4 separate regions of the Homo sapiens genome follow, and regions 2, 3 and 4 are each linked to region 1. The links come from fine-mapping of genetic effects on gene expression. A gene starts in region 1. Each other region holds a variant in brackets. All regions are shown on one strand. Distances are between the middles of the regions.

What was found. PIP is the estimated chance that this variant, and not a neighbour inherited with it, causes the effect.
Region 2: its variant is fine-mapped to the expression of SNX19 in atrial appendage (GTEx, PIP 0.95).
Region 3: its variant is fine-mapped to the expression of SNX19 in whole blood (INTERVAL, PIP above 0.99).
Region 4: its variant is fine-mapped to the expression of SNX19 in whole blood (TOPMed, PIP above 0.99).

The regions. Positions count from the first base shown.
Region 1 is chr11:130,913,511-130,918,497 of GRCh38, reverse strand. It overlaps SNX19 (sorting nexin 19), which reads left to right and starts at 2,019. Exons shown (of 11, transcript NM_014758.3): 1 at 2,019-4,232. The coding sequence starts at 2,559. RefSeq lists a silencer at 1,827-2,106 and an enhancer at 2,227-2,276.
Region 2 is chr11:130,844,526-130,849,512 of GRCh38, reverse strand. LINC02551 (long intergenic non-protein coding RNA 2551) reads left to right here. Exons shown (of 6, transcript NR_125383.1): 4 at 2,471-2,650; 5 at 3,322-3,386; 6 at 4,477-4,987. Among named protein-coding and RNA genes, the nearest start is that of LINC02551, 15 kb to the left of the region's middle. The variant G/C (reference allele first, on the strand shown) is at 2,499.
Region 3 is chr11:130,873,999-130,878,985 of GRCh38, reverse strand. It overlaps SNX19 (sorting nexin 19), which reads left to right. Exons shown (of 11, transcript NM_014758.3): 11 at 432-4,987. The coding sequence ends at 564. Among named protein-coding and RNA genes, the nearest start is that of LINC02551, 14 kb to the right of the region's middle. The variant G/A (reference allele first, on the strand shown) is at 2,249.
Region 4 is chr11:130,893,745-130,898,731 of GRCh38, reverse strand. The region is part of intron 8 of SNX19 (sorting nexin 19); the gene reads left to right. Among named protein-coding and RNA genes, the nearest start is that of SNX19, 20 kb to the left of the region's middle. The variant A/G (reference allele first, on the strand shown) is at 2,402.

The DNA.
Region 1 (4,987 bases):
TGTGGCCAAGTCTCCCCACCCCACATACACACACCAGGGCACATCAGTCCTGACTCTCACCTCCTCCCAGTGATTAATCTGTTTGGAGACCAGGGTCTGCCCAGACCCCCAGGCAGGAGCTCACACCCGTCCAAATGACAAGTGCACGGGCATGTCCATCAAACCCGCTTCAGAATCAGGAAGGCACTCTTGGCTACCTTGATGCTCCAGACCATCTGGTCAGGTGGCATAGCGCCCACTTGCAAGGTCACTTCCTTACTGCCCTGAACACTCCAGATTATGCTGCCAAGTAAACTTTCTCTTTGAACTGCCACAGGAAGTCTTCAGCACCGTCGGTAGTCCCTTCATCATTCACATTTCTGTTTTAGCTCCCAACTAGGTGGCAGGGACTTTTCTCCAGAGCATTGTTGCCATTTTCTAAGTGCTCCTGAGGACATTAGAATGGTCTGGGAAGGTAGAGGGGCAGAGCCCACTTCTCGGGTTCCTTTTCTGCGGGAAGGCAGGCAGCAGTGAAAAGGTATGGACCGTGAAACCGTGGATTCACATTCTGCCATCTCACGGGAGTGCCCAGTCTGCTTAGTGGACACTGATCCTAAATCAAACCATTTGCTTTAGAAGTGATGAATCGTAAACTACGGGTCACATCTAAATGATGGCTTCTTTCGTATTCAAAGGAAGTCTCTGCCCCAACAGCAGCAATGGACGAGACAGGAAGCTGCAACGCACTTCTTGTTGGCAGAGTTTTGGGTTGGGATTTGTTTGAAGATTCCTTTAAACATCTAGGGAGTAGTCCATGATGATGAAAGACTGCTCACAGCACAGAGAAGGTGGACGAAGGGCAACCATGAGCAGCTCTGTGCAAACGATGCGAATCCTATGCCTAAATGGAAAGGAGACCCACCCTGCGGGCACAGCTCCTAGGGCCCAAGGTGGACATGGAAGCTGGCTTCACGCAAAACTGACACTAACACTTTTGACACCTGGTCAGTGCTTCCGGTATTTTGTCTTCCTATAGGTTCCTGTGTAGACAAGTGAAGTCTAATTTGCTAAAACCAAAAACAATCCAACATAGAGCATATTCCAAAGCAAATATATTACAGGATTATCTGAAAGGACACCTCTATCTCTGCTTTCCTTTTCTATGTTTTTGGGGAGGATAAGGCGAGAAGAGATAGAGGGAAATAGAAACCCTCATCCTTGAAGACTCAGCAGAAAGGCACCTTTTCTGTGAGCTTCTCCTTAACCATTGCAACCCACAGTGATCTCTCCTTCCCCTGAATTCCTATAAGATTTTGTATTTTACTATATCGCACGCTGACTGGCATTACTAGATAGCCAATCGCGTTCAAAGCGCTGGCATCCCCAGTTAGCAGGAGGTCCTGGAGGACAAGGTCTGCTTCTATTCGTCCACGCTGCCTCTCACATTGAAGACAGCAGATGCTCAAAATATTTGATTGTTTGTGTAATGCCACCAGCAAATAACCCTCAATCACAAATTTGATTTTGTGATACAGTATATGAAATGTACAACATAAATCTATCTCTGTATCGTTTCATGCCTTATATTCTGCAATTCCTGACAACAAATGAGGGTCTTTGTGCTGGGGACGCGGGGTACCGGCTCTAGGGGAAACCGGATAAATGTTAAGACACATCAGGCCAATGAAACTTCGCCTCCATGAAATTAAAATAAACCGGATTATTGACAGCGTGCCTAAGCAGTAAAGGACAGGCTTCATTTAATAACCAGAACTAGGACGCGTTTTAAAGCGCCTGGAAGTCTGGGTCTTAGCGGTGATTGCTGCGGCGGCTGTTTCGTGGCACTTCGGAAATCTGCGCCAGCTCTTGGCGAGCACGCGCCCCGTGCGCGCTCAGGCTCACGCTCAGGCTCAGAGACTACCTCGCGCAGGGCCGTCAGGGCGGCTCCTCGCCAGCAGAGGGCGCCGGGCAGCGCCGCTCCTCGGGGCGCGCGCGGACGCTCTCCCAGCATGCCTCGCTCCCGTCGACGTCGACCCGGAAGCTGTCGCCGGCGGCCGGCCGGCGGTCAGCCTTCACACAGGCCCGGCTGCGGAGCGCAGTCGCCCAGGTTTACGGCGGCAGAGGGCCGAGGCTCCCGGAGAGGACCGCGATGAGTCCACTTCAGGTCGGGGCTGAGTGTGGGCGCGCGGTTCCCGGCGGCGTGTGACCCAGTCTTCGCCGGCCGCTGCCCGCTGCGTGTGTAAGTGTCCGTGGGCCCCAGGGCCTTGCAGCGCCCGCCCCGAGGCCCCGAAGAGGCCTTCCGCCTGGGGCAGTGTGAAGGCCACAGAGTTTTCCTCCAAAGCCACACCTCAGCTGGAAGGGGCGAGTTGGAGGGCTCTGTTAGTGGTAGCCATGGGGAGACGCGGAGCTGCAGCTGTCGCTTTGCAGTGCCTGTAGGACTTTGAGGGCCTGGAGCCCCGGTTCCCTGAACAGCACCCAGATCGCCCCATATCTGAGACACAGTTCATGCCCCCCTTCCCTAACTCTGAAGTAAAATCTTGAGGGCTGTCATCTGGGGAAGCCACCTTGTCCGTTCAGCCATGAAGACAGAAACAGTGCCACCGTTCCAGGAAACTCCAGCTGGATCGAGCTGTCACCTCAATAACCTGTTGAGTAGCCGGAAGCTGATGGCTGTGGGGGTCTTGCTTGGCTGGCTCCTGGTCATACACCTTCTGGTCAACGTGTGGCTGCTGTGCCTTCTGTCGGCATTGCTAGTGGTGCTGGGAGGATGGCTGGGCTCCAGCCTCGCTGGAGTGGCTTCAGGTCGACTGCATCTGGAACGCTTCATCCCGTTGGCCACCTGTCCTCCATGCCCTGAGGCAGAAAGGCAGCTGGAACGGGAGATCAACCGCACCATCCAGATGATTATTCGAGATTTTGTGTTATCTTGGTACCGTTCCGTGAGCCAGGAGCCAGCCTTTGAGGAAGAAATGGAGGCAGCCATGAAAGGGTTGGTCCAGGAGCTTCGGAGAAGGATGAGCGTGATGGACAGTCATGCTGTTGCCCAGAGTGTTCTGACTCTCTGCGGTTGTCACCTGCAGAGCTACATTCAGGCAAAGGAGGCCACTGCAGGGAAGAATGGTCCAGTTGAGCCTTCCCACCTCTGGGAGGCTTACTGCCGGGCGACTGCCCCACATCCTGCTGTGCACAGCCCCAGTGCTGAAGTCACCTATACGCGTGGCGTTGTGAATTTGTTGCTTCAAGGGCTGGTGCCCAAGCCCCACTTGGAGACTCGTACCGGACGCCATGTAGTGGTCGAACTCATCACATGCAATGTAATCTTACCACTGATCAGCAGGCTGTCAGATCCTGACTGGATCCACCTTGTACTCGTGGGTATCTTTTCCAAGGCCAGAGATCCAGCACCCTGCCCAGCCAGTGCCCCCGAACAGCCCTCAGTGCCGACATCTCTGCCACTGATTGCTGAGGTAGAGCAGCTTCCAGAAGGGAGAGCTTCTCCAGTAGCAGCCCCAGTATTCCTAAGTTACAGTGAGCCAGAGGGTTCTGCAGGCCCCTCTCCAGAGGTTGAAGAAGGCCACGAAGCTGTAGAGGGAGATTTGGGTGGGATGTGTGAAGAAAGAAAAGTAGGAAACAACTCATCTCATTTCCTACAGCCAAATGTTCGAGGTCCCCTGTTCTTATGTGAAGACTCAGAGCTGGAGTCTCCGCTGTCTGAACTGGGCAAAGAAACCATCATGCTCATGACTCCAGGCAGCTTTCTCTCTGACAGGATTCAGGATGCCCTGTGTGCCCTAGAGAGTTCCCAGGCTCTGGAACCCAAAGATGGTGAGGCATCTGAAGGAGCAGAGGCTGAGGAGGGTCCAGGGACAGAAACAGAGACAGGCCTGCCGGTCTCCACACTGAATTCCTGCCCAGAGATCCATATTGACACAGCAGACAAGGAGATAGAACAAGGAGATGTTACCGCCTCTGTTACAGCTTTGCTGGAGGGGCCAGAAAAGACCTGCCCCTCACGGCCGTCATGCTTAGAGAAGGATCTCACCAATGATGTGAGCTCCCTTGATCCTACTCTGCCACCAGTTCTGCTTTCCTCCTCTCCACCTGGTCCTCTCAGCTCAGCCACCTTCAGCTTTGAGCCCCTAAGCAGTCCCGATGGTCCAGTTATCATCCAGAACCTTCGTATCACTGGCACCATTACAGCCCGAGAGCACAGTGGCACTGGATTCCACCCATACACACTCTATACTGTGAAGGTAACAGGATTAAAGCTGTGGGTGCTCACCCGGGCTAGGAGTGGGTTTGGAAAGCAGTCATGAAGCAAATGTTCTTGGGGGAGAGATGCTGTTAGTTTGAAGTGGTTCTTTCAATAGGCATCTATCTCTGTGAATGGTCTGAAGCTAATATGTAAGGCAGAGTAGCGTTTATCCTGTACTCACACAAGCAATCCTGGAACCTCAGGGCTGCTAGAATGCTGAGGGTTATATTTTCAGTGGTTCCCAAACTTGGCTGCACCTCAAAATCACTTGAGCTGCCTTTCAGATATACAGATTCTGACAGACTCTGTTGGATTCTGTATGAGAATTTCTAAGGAGGGGGTCCCTGGATTCTGTATTTTATTTATTTTCAAATAGAACTCTCCAGATAACATAGAGTCAGCCTGTCCTAAGGCCATCTTGGGGAATTGCCTCTCTAATCCAACCAACCCTCTTCATGTTATCTCTTGTCAAGTTGTTCCCAAGTCTGCTTACACACCTCCAAGAGTCAAAAACTTGCTATCTTCTGAGATAGACATAGGTAAATAACCTACCTTCCTAAAACAAAGTACAAAATGTACCAGTATTTTGAAAAAGAAATCAGCAGGGAAGAAGTTGAGAAAGAAAATTCTTGGACAAGATCCTACCCATTGGATTTTACTTGCCTTCCACACTTGAATTTCTCTCATTTGAGTCCACAAGCTACCACCAGGGACAGCCTGCTTGCTACACTCCTCCGAACTCCCAATCCAACT
Region 2 (4,987 bases), 69 kb after region 1:
GTATGCTGAAATGCCCTCCTAATCCTCCACTACTCAGGCCAACTGAGATGAGTTTCAAAGAACCTCTAACAGGCTTGCCATATATTCCTTGGAATTGGGGCAGATTCTGGAACTGGTATCTGAGTCACACTTACTTGGAAGAAAATCTGAAGGAGGGAGTTTCTGGCTGTGGGCAGGGAGTAGAAGCTGTGCTGGCAGACTGAAGGGAGCTATGCAAACGGCAGCGCAAAAACACATGTTTCTCAAGGTCCACATGTGAATCCTGAGGAAGAGACCAGCATGAGGCAGTTTGAAAACTCTATCCAAGAGGACCACTGGAATTAGGGAGGGAGTGCAGGGTGGATGACCCCAGCAGAAGGAGACTGCAGTGAACCACCAGCCATGGGCTGGGCGAATGTCATCAACTTCTAGCCAAAGGAGGCATCCCTGCACCAGAAAACCGCAGTTGAGAGTCCCCAGAGGAGGAGCTTAGAAGAACCCAGAGATGTACCCATGAAAGAAAAGAGGAGCACTTGAGTGCTCAGCTCAGAGAGCCCTTAAACGCCGGATCACACCTGGGCCTACCAAGTAAGGAAGACCTTTCCCATCCACTGCCCTTCTCCTTCTACCCCTGGCCAGCCCTGAAGGAGCCAACAGCAACATGAAGAGTGGGAGGTAGATCAGCCAGGAGAACAAAGAAAAGAAGCAAGTCTCTGCAAGTTTCCCAGCCCCAGCCAGGGCAAAGGTAGTGATTGACAGCTTGGAGTTTAATAAAATATTGAACTGGGCTTTTAATATATGCAAAAGACCAGAATATTCCATGGGATCTGCAGGAAGGAAGAAGGAATTGAAAAAGAGTTATAACACAAAGTGGAGGAAAAATAGTTTCCTTCTATTAACACTGTACCAAATCCAGTCATTCAGAAACAAAACAGAAAGTTCCCTACGCCGCCAACTTTCTGGGTTGCTTACCTGTAAAGCCACACAGAGCTCTGCAGTTAGAAGGGTTCCACCCTTGGCTTAATGCTCTGTTACCATCTTGAAATTCTTAGTAATTTTTAACATGGGCCCCACATTCTCATTTTGCACTGGGCCCTGCAAATTACATAGCCAGTCCTAGTAACATATGTAACAGGGACTTAGCCTTGTTCTATGTGACCCCAGTTGGTAGAATGGAACCAATTAGTGGGAGGTTAAAAAAACAAACAAACAAAAAAAAAAAACAGATTTTAGCTCAATGCAGTAGTCCCCACTTATTCACAGGGAATATGTTCCAAGACACCCAGTGGATGCCTGAAACCTAGGATAGTACCAACCCCAACTATGTTTTTTTCCTATACATACATATCTATGATAAAGTTTGGGGTGCAACAGCAAAACTATATGAATTTTTTTCTTCTTCACAATTTCACAGGTAAAAAAATTCATTCTCACTGTAGATCTCAGCAACTTTAATATTGCAATTTTTATTCTTTCGTTATTAAGTCAAGAGCTCTCACCTTTTCACTTAACGAAAGCACTTCCCAGCTTCTCCTAGGCATGTTCAAATGGCCAGCATCACTACTTTTGTTCTTTGGAGCCACTGTTCAGTAAAATAAGGGTCACTTGAACACAAGCACTGCAAAACAAATGACAGTCAATCTAATAACCAAGACGGCTCCTATGTGACTCATGGGTGAGTAGCGCAGACAGCATGGACATGCCAGACAACGGGATGATTCACGTCCTGGGTGAGATGGAGTAGGACTGCATGAGATTTTTATCATGCCATTCAGAAGGGCATGCAATTTAAAACTTACGTGTATTTCTGAGATTTGCCATTTACTATTTCTGGACTGCGGTTAAGCACAGGTAACTAAAACTGTAGAAAGTGAAACTGCAGATAAGGGAGACTACTGTATCGGGACAAGTTTGTTAATACTCATAGCTACCCAGATTGGGATAGGCAGTGTAAAGGAGTCAGAGCTTCTGTTCATCAGAATCCATACGGCAGAGGTGGGTCAGCCTTTTGGCACTCTAGGGCCTCCAAAATCCTTTTCAGCCCTGGGATTATCTGATTCTTTGATTAATGAATGTCTTTCAAGATGCCTACCTTACCAACTTAACCAGGAAATGAATTCACTAGTACTGTGACCAGGTAAGAGTATTTCCAAGGGCAGCCTATGAGCCCTCAATGGATGGAGTTTCACTAATTCCCTCTGTTTCTGTCTAAGTTGTGAGGTATTTTCCTTTAATGAGAACATTATTGCCATTACTCACTGTATTTTTTTTGTTCGTTGTTAGTTGGATCTTATTATGGCTGGCACATCATGGCTCCTTTATTCCAAGAAGAAGTCTTTTAAAACATCCCAGAAAGTATCTAGGGCTTAAAGCCACTTTCATTAATCATTATTTTGACAATGAAGCATAAACAAACTGACAAATATTGTTTAAATTTAACATTAAAATTCAATGTGTATGTCTCAGTTATTGTTGTCATTCTTATTTTCAGTCAGGGAGATGGTTCCAGGAGAAGAAAA[G/C]AAAGTCAGTTGCTTTCTGAGATCAGGTGGGAAGTTTATCCTGTCAACTCCACCTTTAGAGTGCTAGTCTCTGGAGCCACAAGGACTGAAACTCTGCTTCAGAGACCCACCACTGATGACAACCATCAGGCTCAGGAACTGAAAAGAAATGGGTATGCTTGATCATGCTTAGTAAACACGTTTCACTACTGACTCACTTCTCCTGTGTGTTGGAAAACGTTGAGCTTCTTTCATACCATATTTTGGCCTTGACCTTTGTAGCATTTAGCCTCCCTACAATGGGGTCTATGTGTTTCCACACCCTCAGAGCAGGCCCCTAATTATAGCCATCCATTAAACTGTCAGAAAGAAATCCTCAACTCAATCATGTCTTTATCAAACTCTGGCTGTCAGTGGGGTCAAGTGAGGCGTCAAGTCTGACCTGCCCGGAGCCCCTGTCATGTGCTCATCTCACACTCACTGGGGTCTTTGTGACCAGGCAGGCTAGACAGCCACCTGGCCACCCCCAGCCCAGTCCCCTCTCCCACTGCATTGCCCAGACAGGGCGGAGCCAAGGGAGGCTCTCAAGCTCAGATAATGGGGCTGACATAATGTAAGGCCTTCTCCTTGACCTTATCTTGGGGTATTTTGTGCAAAGAAGTTGTATGGGGTTGGCAAAGTCCTAAATTGGAAATGGGGACTCTACTAAACAGGGAGGAATCTAGTTTCAGGGGAAAAAAATTATTCGGTTTGGACCTGCTTTTGGAGATTATGCAATAGAATCAGAGGATTTTATCACTACAAAGGAAATTGTACCTGTCTAACCCTTTATTTTACATTTCAGTGCAAATGTGGCCGAGGGACTTGGGTTTTACATTTATTGCCGAGTCTGGTTTTCTTGAGTTTCAGGTGAGTAATATTTTAAAGGGAGCTCCATAAGAATGAGGTTAATCCAAGGTTGTCATATGTGGCTTTATATTATTCTCTAGTTGGTTCACACAAATTTGTTTTGTCTCCCATACAAGATCATAAAATTCTTCAAGGATAAAGGTTATTTCTCCTCTGTAGCCCATAGTGTTAAGAAAGAACTTAAAGTATTTGTTGAGAGTTAGCAATGCTCTTTACTCATTTGTTCTGTATTTGAGTGTGTGTGTGTATGTATGTGTGTGTGTGTGTGTTCCTGTGTGTCTCCCCAGATAACTTATAAACACTACCTGCAAATTAAAATAGAACCACCGTGTTTTATTGCTAGTCCTATCACCGCATTTAAAAGACGAGGACATTGAGATCCAGGGAAGTTAAGTTACTTGCACAAGAATATTCAACAAGAATATGATTTAAACTCGGATCCACTTACAGCCCATTCAGTATTCTCCCCACAGTACCAAGTCCCCTTCTTGTTCTAACACATTGGTAGATAAATGTTGACGGGTACAAAAAAAGAAGACATCAGAAATAGGTGGGGTGAATCAGCCCTTAACTATTAACATTACTATTGTTATTAGCAATACCTTAAATATTACCCTGCCCATACAGCTGTTAAACTATTAAGATAAACACTCTTAACAGTTTCATGTATACCCCCACATAAACAATAACTGAAAGCAAGTTTGTGCCATATATATATGTGCATTTATATATAAATATATATGCATTTTCAGTTACACACACACACATATATGCATTTTCAATTACACAAGAGGAATTTTGCCATATATGTTGCTCTGTACTTTACTCTTTTCAATTGATGATATTCCTTAGAGATCTTTCTGTATCAGCACATGCAGATCTAATTCACACTTTTCAAAGGGCATTTATGGTTGGATATACCATAACTTATTTAACCACTCCCCTACTCATGGGCACTTCGGTTGTTTCCAGATTTATGCTAAGAAATGTGTACCTTTAACAACCTCTCCTGGAGGGGTTTTAAGTCACTAGCTTGACATGAGATCGGTATTTTGAAATCACCAATAGTCGTATGCCTTTATTTTTACAGATGATAAAATTGAAGCCCAGAGAAGCTTGGGAGCCTCAACTATTAATGGAAAAACCATAACTAGAACTGAGTTTTCCTGAGACATTTTTTACTATTCATTCCCCTGCTCTTGGGCCACTCCAGGGCACTGAGCACACTTGCTTTGGCTATTTGGAGAAGAGGCCAATAGACACAACTGGCTTCATCTTCAGGGACACCCAATATCTGGCAGCCCTCAGCCCCAGCGGAGTCTTTATTGAAAGAACTGATTCATAGACCAGGCGCGGTGGCTCACGCCTATAATCCCAACACTTTGGGAAGCTGAGGTGGGCGGATCTCAGTCAGGAGATCGAGACCATCCTGGCTAACACGGTGAAACCCCATCTCTACTAAAAATACAAAAATAAAAAAAAAAAATAGCTGGGTGTGGTGGCAGGCGCCTGTAGTCCCAGCACTTTGGGAGGCCGAGGTGGGCAGATCACAAGGTCAGGAGTTCAAGACCAGCCTGACCAACATGGTGAAACCCCATCTC
Region 3 (4,987 bases), 40 kb after region 1:
TAGACTGTGTTCGTTAACTTCCTCAAGGATCCTGGCTTTACCTCACTGCCTGTAAGGCAGCCTATAAATTTAAGGTAATTAATTATGAGAAACAGCAGTAGTCAGGAGCTCTGAAAGTGTCTAGTAACCTGACATCTCAAGGATTTGTTATCACAGTTCTTCAGAGCAGTGCTAATGTAACTATGTAAAGAGAAATGGAATTTTATAAAACTTAGTCTTATATAAAACTAGTCTTATATAAAAACTGTTCTTGCCTTTATTAGGGTCAGAGGCTTTATTAGTTCAAAAAACATTAATTTCATGGCAGAGGTTTCATCAAGCTATTGAAGTTTAGGGTGTCGGTGATGGGGGAGGAGAAAATAAATGTCATAAACAGGATCTTGTGTTTCCTGATTGAGCCAGACCCTAAGTTTTTTGTCCATTCGTTTCAGGCATTTGATTTACTGCCTTGGGGACATCATCCTGGAATTCTTGGATCTCAGTGCCTCTGTTGAGGAGTCTGCTGCTACCACCTCTGCCTCAGATACCCCAGGCAACTCTAAGAGGATGGGTGTCTCCTCTTAGCTGGTTATTCACGCCTTCTTCCCAGGTCAGGGAAGTAGAGTTACTCGGCCACCAGAGACCAGTCAGGAAGCCCGTGCCCTCTTCAAGTAGGCTACAGCTAAGAAGGCCTAGGTTCTCGGTGGCTCACTTCTCTCCCACTTCTGCTCCATTTGTAGCAGGTGACAGGGGTCTGTGTGTCCCAGTTGTATGCACGTTTATTTCCCTGTTCCTTTTGTGATGTTGGGATTGTTGCTGGTGAGTAGATCCTGTTTCCTTTGGGAAAAGAAGCTGTGAGGTAGAGGAATGAACCCCTTTTGCTTCTCCTTTTGCCATCCTCCCTGAGATTGTTTGCCAGAATCCTGGCCCTGTGCACACATGTGCTTAATCCACCAGCACACAAGCTCTAGATAGAACAGGAAAAAAACTGTGGCCAGATTTCCTTGGAGGAGAAAACAACCTTCTCAGCTCTCTGTTCCTACCCGGAAACTAAAAATTCATTCAGGGCCATTCTCAAAAACCAGACTCCTGGGTCTAATCTAGTTTCCCAACAGTTCCAGAAGAAGAAGGAGGGAAGAAAATTTTTCAAGGAACTTCTTGCTCATGTGTTGCTGTTTCCCAACACATCAGCCTTATGGAAGATGTCATGAGGCTGCTTGCCTGGGAGGCTACACTTTCCTTTCCAGAAGACTTCAAAGCTGACTGCCAAAGCTTCTGGTAAATCCACCCCACCCTTCACACCCTTTCCTGAAAGGCATTTATACCACCCATTTTATTTATTGGCTTTGCTCCCAACCCCCTGCCCTAGAGCAATTGAGTTTTTGAATTTTTGACCCTCTCTCTGTCTTCAGCAAAACTGCATGACAAGCTGCATATTCAGCCTCAGTTTTTCCAAGGAGAATGGAAAGCACTTGCCTCCTGTCTTAAGAATGCACAAAGAGTAGGACTAGCAAGGCTGGGGGATGAAATCTCCCTTCCTAAGTCTTTGACAGAGAACTTTTATTATTCTGAACAGATAAGATTAGCAAACTTACAAGGAATAGCTTCTTATTTCCCATTCCTTACGGTTATAATCAGTCCTTTAACAACACCAGCATGAAGGCAAAGGTGTTTTGTCAGACTGCAACATCTATTAGAAAGGCAAGGCAACTGGGAATTGCTGGAGAAGGATAAATCAGGAGGAATTGCTGGTAGAAAAGGCTGCAGACAGTCACAGGGAAGTGCTGTATATTAAATGCATGTGAATAGCTGGCAAAAAGATGTCAAGGATGTCACTGGGAGCCCTTTGGCTTCACACTCGCCTGTTAGCGCCTTGCTTTCGCTGAATTACCAGAGCCTACCACTCGGAGGAAGGTCTTGGAGTTAGACTGATGAGAAGGCAATGGGGTGTCAAAAACAAGTGTCAAAGTTCTCTTAGATTCTGAAGTCGGTGATGAGCACACAATTAAAGTGGTTTGTGGAAGAAAGTTGTAAAATCTTTTTACTTTTTTGCCCCTCTGGAGGCTTTTAACCCTAAATTGTGTCTGATGTATTCGGGAGGCTTAGGTGTGCAATTCTTGCCCAAAGGCAAGGAGATGAATGAGATGTCTCATGGCCTCTTCTAGCCTTAAAAGTTGACCATTACAGTGACTTTATGGCTCCAAAGTTCTTGAAGCATCTCCAGCCCTAGACTTTGACAAGAAAAGGTAGCTCAGCATCTCTACTTTCC[G/A]TGAGTACCTGCAGGAGTCCAGCCAATGTATTAGAGCTGATCATTAAGCTCCTTCAGTGAGGGCTAAGATCCTATTCTCGATGAGCATAGGGGGACAGCCTTGTTTTATGCCACTTTTCTCTCCCCATACCTACCTTCCCCTCATGTGTACTTAGCCACCTGTGTTGCTTTGAATCTGCTGCCAGTTCTGGCTCAAATGTGGCACAAAATCAGTACATCAGACACACCATGAAATCCCTGTGGCTATAAATTCTAAGGAATCTTTTGACACTTCCAGCCCAAAGAACTTATTTTTATTTCGTATTATATAAGAGTCCCCACCTCTACTCCACGTACCCCAAAAAGATAAGCTGTCCTCAGATCCTCCTTCTACCCAGGAGGGAAATAATGGATATTGCCAAGGGAACAATCAGAACTCATCTGGCTTTGAAAACGACCTGCCAAGTTTGGCTAGCAGGTTCAGACAACAAGAGAGTAACAATTGGTAGAGAGCCACAGGTAGAAAAGATACTCCCAGCTGACAGGGTGATAAAAGGCAGGGAAGAATTGGGCCTGTGCTGATCCAGGAAGGTTTTATTGTTTGCTTGTTTTTTGTATTTACTCGTGACTAAATTTTATTCATTTAAGTCAGAATTTTGATATTTGAAATAAGACTACTTTCCCTTTTCTTACTATCTATAAAAAAGACGAGGCAGGGATGCTGTGTTCTTTCTGTCAAATTCTAAATGTGATCTTTGCCATTGCTTATTTGAATTCAAGAAAGCTATACTTTTTCATCACATATAACTCACAGTTTCATTTTTGCATTGTTGGATTAGACTTAATAAAACCTAAATGGAAAATAAATTCCTAAATCTGAGCCTAGGAGCATGTATAAATTTTATTTTTATTATTATTATACATTAAGTTCTAGGGAACATGTGCACAACATGCAGGTTTGTTGCATATGTATACATGTGCCGTGTTGGTGTGCTGCACCCGTTAACTCGTCATTTACATTAGGTATATCTCCTGATGCTATCCCTTCCCCCTCCCCCGACCTCACAACAGGCCCCAGTGTGTGATGTTCACCTTCCTGTGTCCAAGTGTTCTCATTGTTCAATTCCCACCTATGAGTGAGAGCATGTATAAATTTTAAAATCAATACAAGCTACTCCAATTTCCATTTTGGAAATTTCCAGTTTACAAGGTGATTTTCTTATTGTTGTAAAGAAACACATAATGTGAGATCTACCCTCTTAAGTGTACAGTACATTATTTATTTATTTTGAGACGGTACATTATTAACTAGAAGCAGCACAGTGCTTTGTAGCAGACTGCTACAAGTTTTTCATCTTGCATAACCAAAAGTTTATACCCATTGAACAGCCACTCCTCGTTTCCCCTCCCACCAGCCTCTGGCAATCACTGTTCTACTTTCTGCTTCTGTGAGTTTGACTACTTTGAACGCCTCATATAAGTGGAATCATGCAGTGTTTGTCCTTTGACTGGCTTATTTCACTTAGCATAATGTCCTCCAGGTTCATCCACGTTACAGCATGTGACAGAATTTTCTTTTTAAGGCTGAAAACATTCCATTGTATGGCTATGCCACATTTTCTTTGTTCATTCATTGAGGGACATTTAGGTTGGCTCCGCGCCTTGATTGTTGAAAACAATGCTGCAGTGAACATGGGAGTGTGACTGTTTCTTCGAGGCCCTGCTTTTAATTATTTTAGATAAATACCCAGAAGTAGGATTGCTGGATCATATATTGTTCTGTTTTTAATTCTTTGAAGACCTTCATACTGTTTTCCATAGTGACTAGACCATTTTACATTCCCACCAACAATGTACAAGGGTTCCAGTTTCTCCACATCCTCTCCAACACTTGTAATGTTTTGTTTTTTCATAATGGCATCTTAAAAGGTATTAGGTGATATTACTATCTCATGGTTTTGATTTGCATAGCCTAGAACATTTTTGAGTCTTCCTGTGTCCTACCCAGGTTATTCATTTCCAGCTACTGCTCTTCCTTTGCTCATAGCACACAACACCAGTTGTTAGGTCCTGGAGGAAGTAAAAATATGTGTAACTATGGTCCCTGGCTATATGAATCAGGATGCTCTGGACAAGAATTAAATTATGAGGAAAATTTATTTTATTTCATAACATTAGTACGTGAGTAGGTAAGCCCAGGAGTTTGGTGATTCAGCAACTCTGAGACCTCTTAAGGGGCCTGAATTCTTTCCATCTTTCTTCCTTGCCATTCTAATTAGGTCAGCTGTGCTCTCAGACTGCCTGCCTTCCTGCTGCTGCAGTTTCAGGCATCACACCCAGAGATAACATTCATAAAAGAACAGGAGCATCTCTTCTGTGTTTTCTTCTAAGGAATGAAGGAACCATTTCCCAGAAGTCCTTCAAGAATCCTCTTCTAGGCCGGGCACAGCGGCTCACACCTATAATCTCAACACTTTGGGAGGCCAAGGTTGGGGGATTGTTTGAGTCCAGGAGTTTAAGACCAGCCTGGAACATAGCAAGACCCTGTCTCTACAAAAAATATAAAAAATGAGCGGGGCATGGTGGCTCTCGCCTGTGGTTCCACCTACTAGGGAGGCTGAGGCAGGAGGATCACTTGAGCCCAGGAATTTGAGGCTGCAGTGAGCTACGATCACACCACTGCATTCTAGCCTTAAGTGACAGAGTGAGACCCCAAATAAAAAAAAAAAAAACAAAAAACCTCTTATGACTCATTGGCTA
Region 4 (4,987 bases), 20 kb after region 1:
TTAAAAAGTGGTGTATGCATTGCTGCATGCTTCAGCTTTATTTGCTTTGGTAAGCCAATATGCTGGAAACTTGACATCTCCAGAGCTGCAGCACCTCTCCACTGTACCCCCTGCATCTCCCACAAGAGGCATGATATGAGGTCCCGTTGCCTCCCATCCCCATGACTGCTGCCTAGGAGGCTACATGTTTGTCCTCCCTGAAACCACGGGTAGCTGAGCCATATGCTTTTGCAGGGTACTTGGGTTCTCTTCCTTTAAGTTCCGTGCTTAAAAGAGCAGGATAGTTGGTGTTGGTGCCACACGTGGTACTGCCACTTCTCTAGTTATTTAGAACTCACTGCAGTTTGACCATCAGGGATGCTGTAGTCACCAGATTTGAGTGCATCTCCTCCTTAAAATGTCCTCATGTTCCAACCTCCAGTATTATTATCCCCAAGCAGGCAAGTTTATTCCTCTGCTTCCAACTTTGTATACCCATCTTGCAACTTTAAAAGACCTGTGTACATTACTGCCTTGGACGCCATAGACTTCTGTCAAATTATAAGCACACTCTCTATCCTGCAAAGGAAAAAAAAAAAACAGAGTAAGTTCGACCTCATAACCCCTCCTTCTAAGCCAAAGTTGGAAGAGCTCTGATCTGAGCCAGGCTTATAAATCTCCGTTGATTGTTGATGATGTGGAGAGAAGTGGGAGGGGAGCTGAAGAGAAGTTAGATGCCCAAAAAAGGCATTGTTAAGTCAAAGGGAAGTCTTGCATGCATGTGCGCCTAACCTCATGTGTCAGCTTCTGTGCTGGGAACATCCAATTATGTAACAAGAAGCACTCCTTATTTGGAATGAGAGACAAAGGGAGGGGAAGGGGAGAGCGGGTAGCACTCTGAGCCAAGGAGCAAATCCGGCTTGTGCAAACTCTGCTCATGCCCGAAAACAGAAGAAACTTGAAAATATCTCTGCAAACATCAGAATCAGATTTAGCAAACTGGGCAAGTACTCAGAGTTAGACTGGGTTGGAGGGAAAGAGGAGAGATACACTGTGCTGCATTGATGGTAGGGGGTTTGGGGCAGGAAGATCCAGCCAAGGTAAGGGGTAGGATTGGTGTGGAGTCCTGATGGAAAGTGAAGGAATGAGAAGCTGGACCGGCGCCCTGCCTGGACACCCAGAGCAATGCCACGATAAAAATAGGAACCATGCCAGCAGCAGAATGCGTGAATGCCACGTCCGCGGCGCTGCCCTCCCCATGGCCCCAACGATGGCATCAGACCTGTGTCAAAAGGGCAGCAGACACATTCCTGGCATCTGCGTCAGGATTTCTCAGTTAAAAAGGGAGTGTGTGTGTGTGTGTCTGTGTGTGTGTGTGTAAGATAGAGACAGAGTGTGTGTGTGTGAGTGTTGGGGGCATGTGGGAATGGAATGGCTTGGCAGAAAGCCAGGGGGAAAGGTTCTGGCAGAGGGGAGCGTGAAGTGTGTAAAGTTAGGAAGTATCCAGAGAGGAAGAAGAAAAGAAAGGGTGTGCAGGTTTAAGGAGTCCAACAAGCAGGGCACCCAGGAGAAACTTGATGGCAAGCTCTAGACCTTACACCAGACCTTGGAATCACTTTCTTAGAGAAGATGTCTCTCTCTAAACCATCTCCTAGGAAAGGTCAGGAGAGCTGCGGCAGAGTCTGGGAGCACTGGAGAGTGCTGTGCTGCAAGGCGCAACGTCCACCTCCCCTAAGGACAGTTGGGAAAGGTTGACCATGAACCCTCTTGCTTCCACTGTTCTCTTAGAACGCTCCAGAATCAAGGCGCTTTCTGTGGAACTCTACTTCAAGGGCCTCTTTCTTGGTGGGCATGTCTAACTAGCAGGTGGATAACAGTTCTTTGTGACATTGGTTATTTCTTAAGAGAACCTCCAGGTCTGCCACCAAAAGTGCACGAGTAATTGCAATGGGAAAGGAACTGACGCTTATTACAATATTAATACCAGGAAAGCAGCTATGTACTGTTTATATTAATGTTCAATTCTATGAGATAGACATGTAGTTCTACATTTCATAAGTGAAGAAAATTACATTCAGATAAAATAACGTTCCCAAAATCATAAAAGTCGTAACAACCACACCTTAAGATTCCACTTAAGTCATCCTGGCCTCAGAGCTCATGTGTTTCCCACTGCTCTGCCATGCTTCCCCTCCATGCAAGCTTTCCCACAAAGCAGTGGCCACTAGAACTGGGTTCACCTGAAAGTTCCCTTGCCGTATTCCCATCTAGCCTCTCTTGCTTTCCATCCAGCTGGTCTCAGGGACACACGCATCTGATGGTAGCATATAAATTATTTTTGTCTGCATATTCTGATTTTATTTTTAAAGCACTTCTGAGCCAGAGATTGTCTCTTAGCTATCTCTATTTATATGCTATTCAC[A/G]ATCAGGAAAAGATTATCAACGTTAAGACTCAGAGTTTCTCAGGAAGCATAGATTACAGTTTTTTCCTTTGCTGTGTAACTTTTTCTTCCAGTTCAGCTCTGATGCCTGGCTATGTCTTATACCCCATCTCTTCCTATGCACAGCTTTTCTAGAAATACGCATACTTTTGCAAGACCCCCACATACAAAATTAACTCAAGCTCAGTCTTCAGAATTCTCGCTTATTTTCTGGCTCTCCAGTCATTGGCTTGGGCTGTTTTTAGAGGTGCTGAAATTAATTTTTCTCATTGATGGCTTTGCTCAGATTGTACTGTGGCTCCCTGGGAAGGAGTACTGCTTGTCCCAGGCCTCTTCCATTAGGCCATGCCAAAGGGAAGCTCTTGACTTCTATAGACTGGGCCAGGATGGGCCCTAGCAGTTTCCCCTGTCATATGAGTGGTCTGCCTGTCATATTTCTTGGGTATCACTTATTCTACACCCATCTTAGGATGAAGACATCATGGCTTTCCTGTCACATAGTGACAGTCTCTACTGGAATATATCTTTGAGATTGTAGCAGGTGGATGGCAGCTGACAGCCGTGTGCCTGAGCATTGCATTTGCATTTCTGTGTGTGTGTGCTCTTGAAGTCTCATATACTCAAATAGAGGTACAAAATTGCTCATTGTAAAAGTTAACAAAAAACAGAATATCATGAGGTATTTAAACCTCAGAGCCTTTTTTTCCAAGTCAGGTTCTTGGCATCTCTTGCCCATCTGTGACTGCAAACAGGAACCTAAGATTTTGACATTTTGATGACAGCTTTAGAATGTATGTCAGCATCCTGAGGGCAGGGACTGCGTCTTATTTACCATTATATCTTCAACACCCAGCCCCATGCATAGAAGGCACCTAGTAAATTTGTGTCAAATAAATGAACACAGAAGATCACACGTCATTCTACTGGAGGCAGTCCCTCTGCTTATCACTATTAAGAATCTTAGGGTTTCCTCAACAGTGCTGGGGGACCAGAAGCAAAATGGAAACTGAGTCTTTCATTCCCTCCACACAGGGCATACCCAGATCTTCAGTTAATTGGGGAATTCTGATTCCCAGAGCCATGGTACGGCCTAAGCAAAGAGGTTTGGGGGCCCTTCAGGCCATCTCCCATTCTAATGGCTCTCTCCTTTCCAAAGAGTGCAGCGCCCCTCCACAACCTGGGCCTCCCAGTATGAAGCCCCACCGAGCCTGCCCTCTCTGGAAGCATCTCCTGCTGTTGTACTTTCTCCACCTCTTTCCTTCCACATGGAAAGCAAGAACTTGGACTTTGAAGTCAGATCTGAAATCAGATCTTGCTTTGAGGCTATGTGACTTAGAACAAACCACTTAACTTCCTTTGTCTGTTACTGTCGAAATAGAAATCATAGCCTAGTGCATGAAGTTCTTTGGGGGGATAAGAGATAATTTAGAGGTAAATGTTAGAGAGGCTTTATAGAGGAAGGTATAACAGCTAGATCTTGTGAGATAGGTGTCATTTAGACTGGTTTAGGCTAAATAATATTCTAGACACTAAGACATTTTTAAAACAGGAGGAGGGGCATTCTACTTTCAAATAAAAAGCAACCTGGAATATTTTTAGCCAGCTTCTTTCTGAATGTGTGTTGCTTTTATTGTTTCAAATAGGTGACAAAAAGCCTACCAAACTGCTGCTGCATGGCGTGGGCACAGGAATTCTCTCTATGGGCACCAGGTGGCGCTGCAGGTTAAACAATACCATTCACTGTCCTTTGAGGAAGACCTGTTTGTTTTGCAGTTATAGGTCCCCTGCCGTGATGTTGATACAGTATATTGAAGCCATTCCCTGGCTTGCTCTACGGTTTAGAGGCCACTTATCTGCCTACTCCTTAGTGCCAGTGACTTTTAGATAAGCCCTGTTTCTTTGATCTTTCACCCTTCTTCCTTCTGCTCTAATGCGTCTTCAGCATATGCTTGCTTCTCTGAGTGGTGTGGATGACCAGAAGTTGCCCCTTTGAGTGGATCCCACCCGTTAAAAATTCAGTGCTGGAGCTGATTCATTCAGAACAGAGTGAGCAGAACAGAGTCTGTGGTGATGAGACCAGCTAGACATCTGAATTGCAAGAATTTTGTTAATATTCTGTATAAACTACTTGGACCTATATTCAGGGTCTCCTGTGATCCTAAAATCTTATACATTATGTATTCACTAAGATGGAGATTGTCAGTGCTGAATAGCCCCGATGTTAGGAATCTTATCAACCTGTTACATAATCAAGGACATTCCCTATTGCTTTCGGCCATGGATGGAGACCGTTTGGCTCTCCCCCATTAACTTGGTTTTGGAGAAGCAACCATATGTTATTGCTTACTTTTGATCTTTACCTCTGTCCTTGCAGGCTTCTCCAAGTGCCCTTTGGAGAAGTAGAGCTATTTGGTACTGGAGCAGGGAGGGAGTTGGGTAAATTGGTGGGAAATATACTTTAGCTCTAATATAATGCTGGCCCCGAAAGATTTCTCGGAGAGGATTCAGCCTTCCTGGGAGGGAGGCTGGTGTGCAAATGCAGCATCAAGGTAAGTTCCTCAACACCTG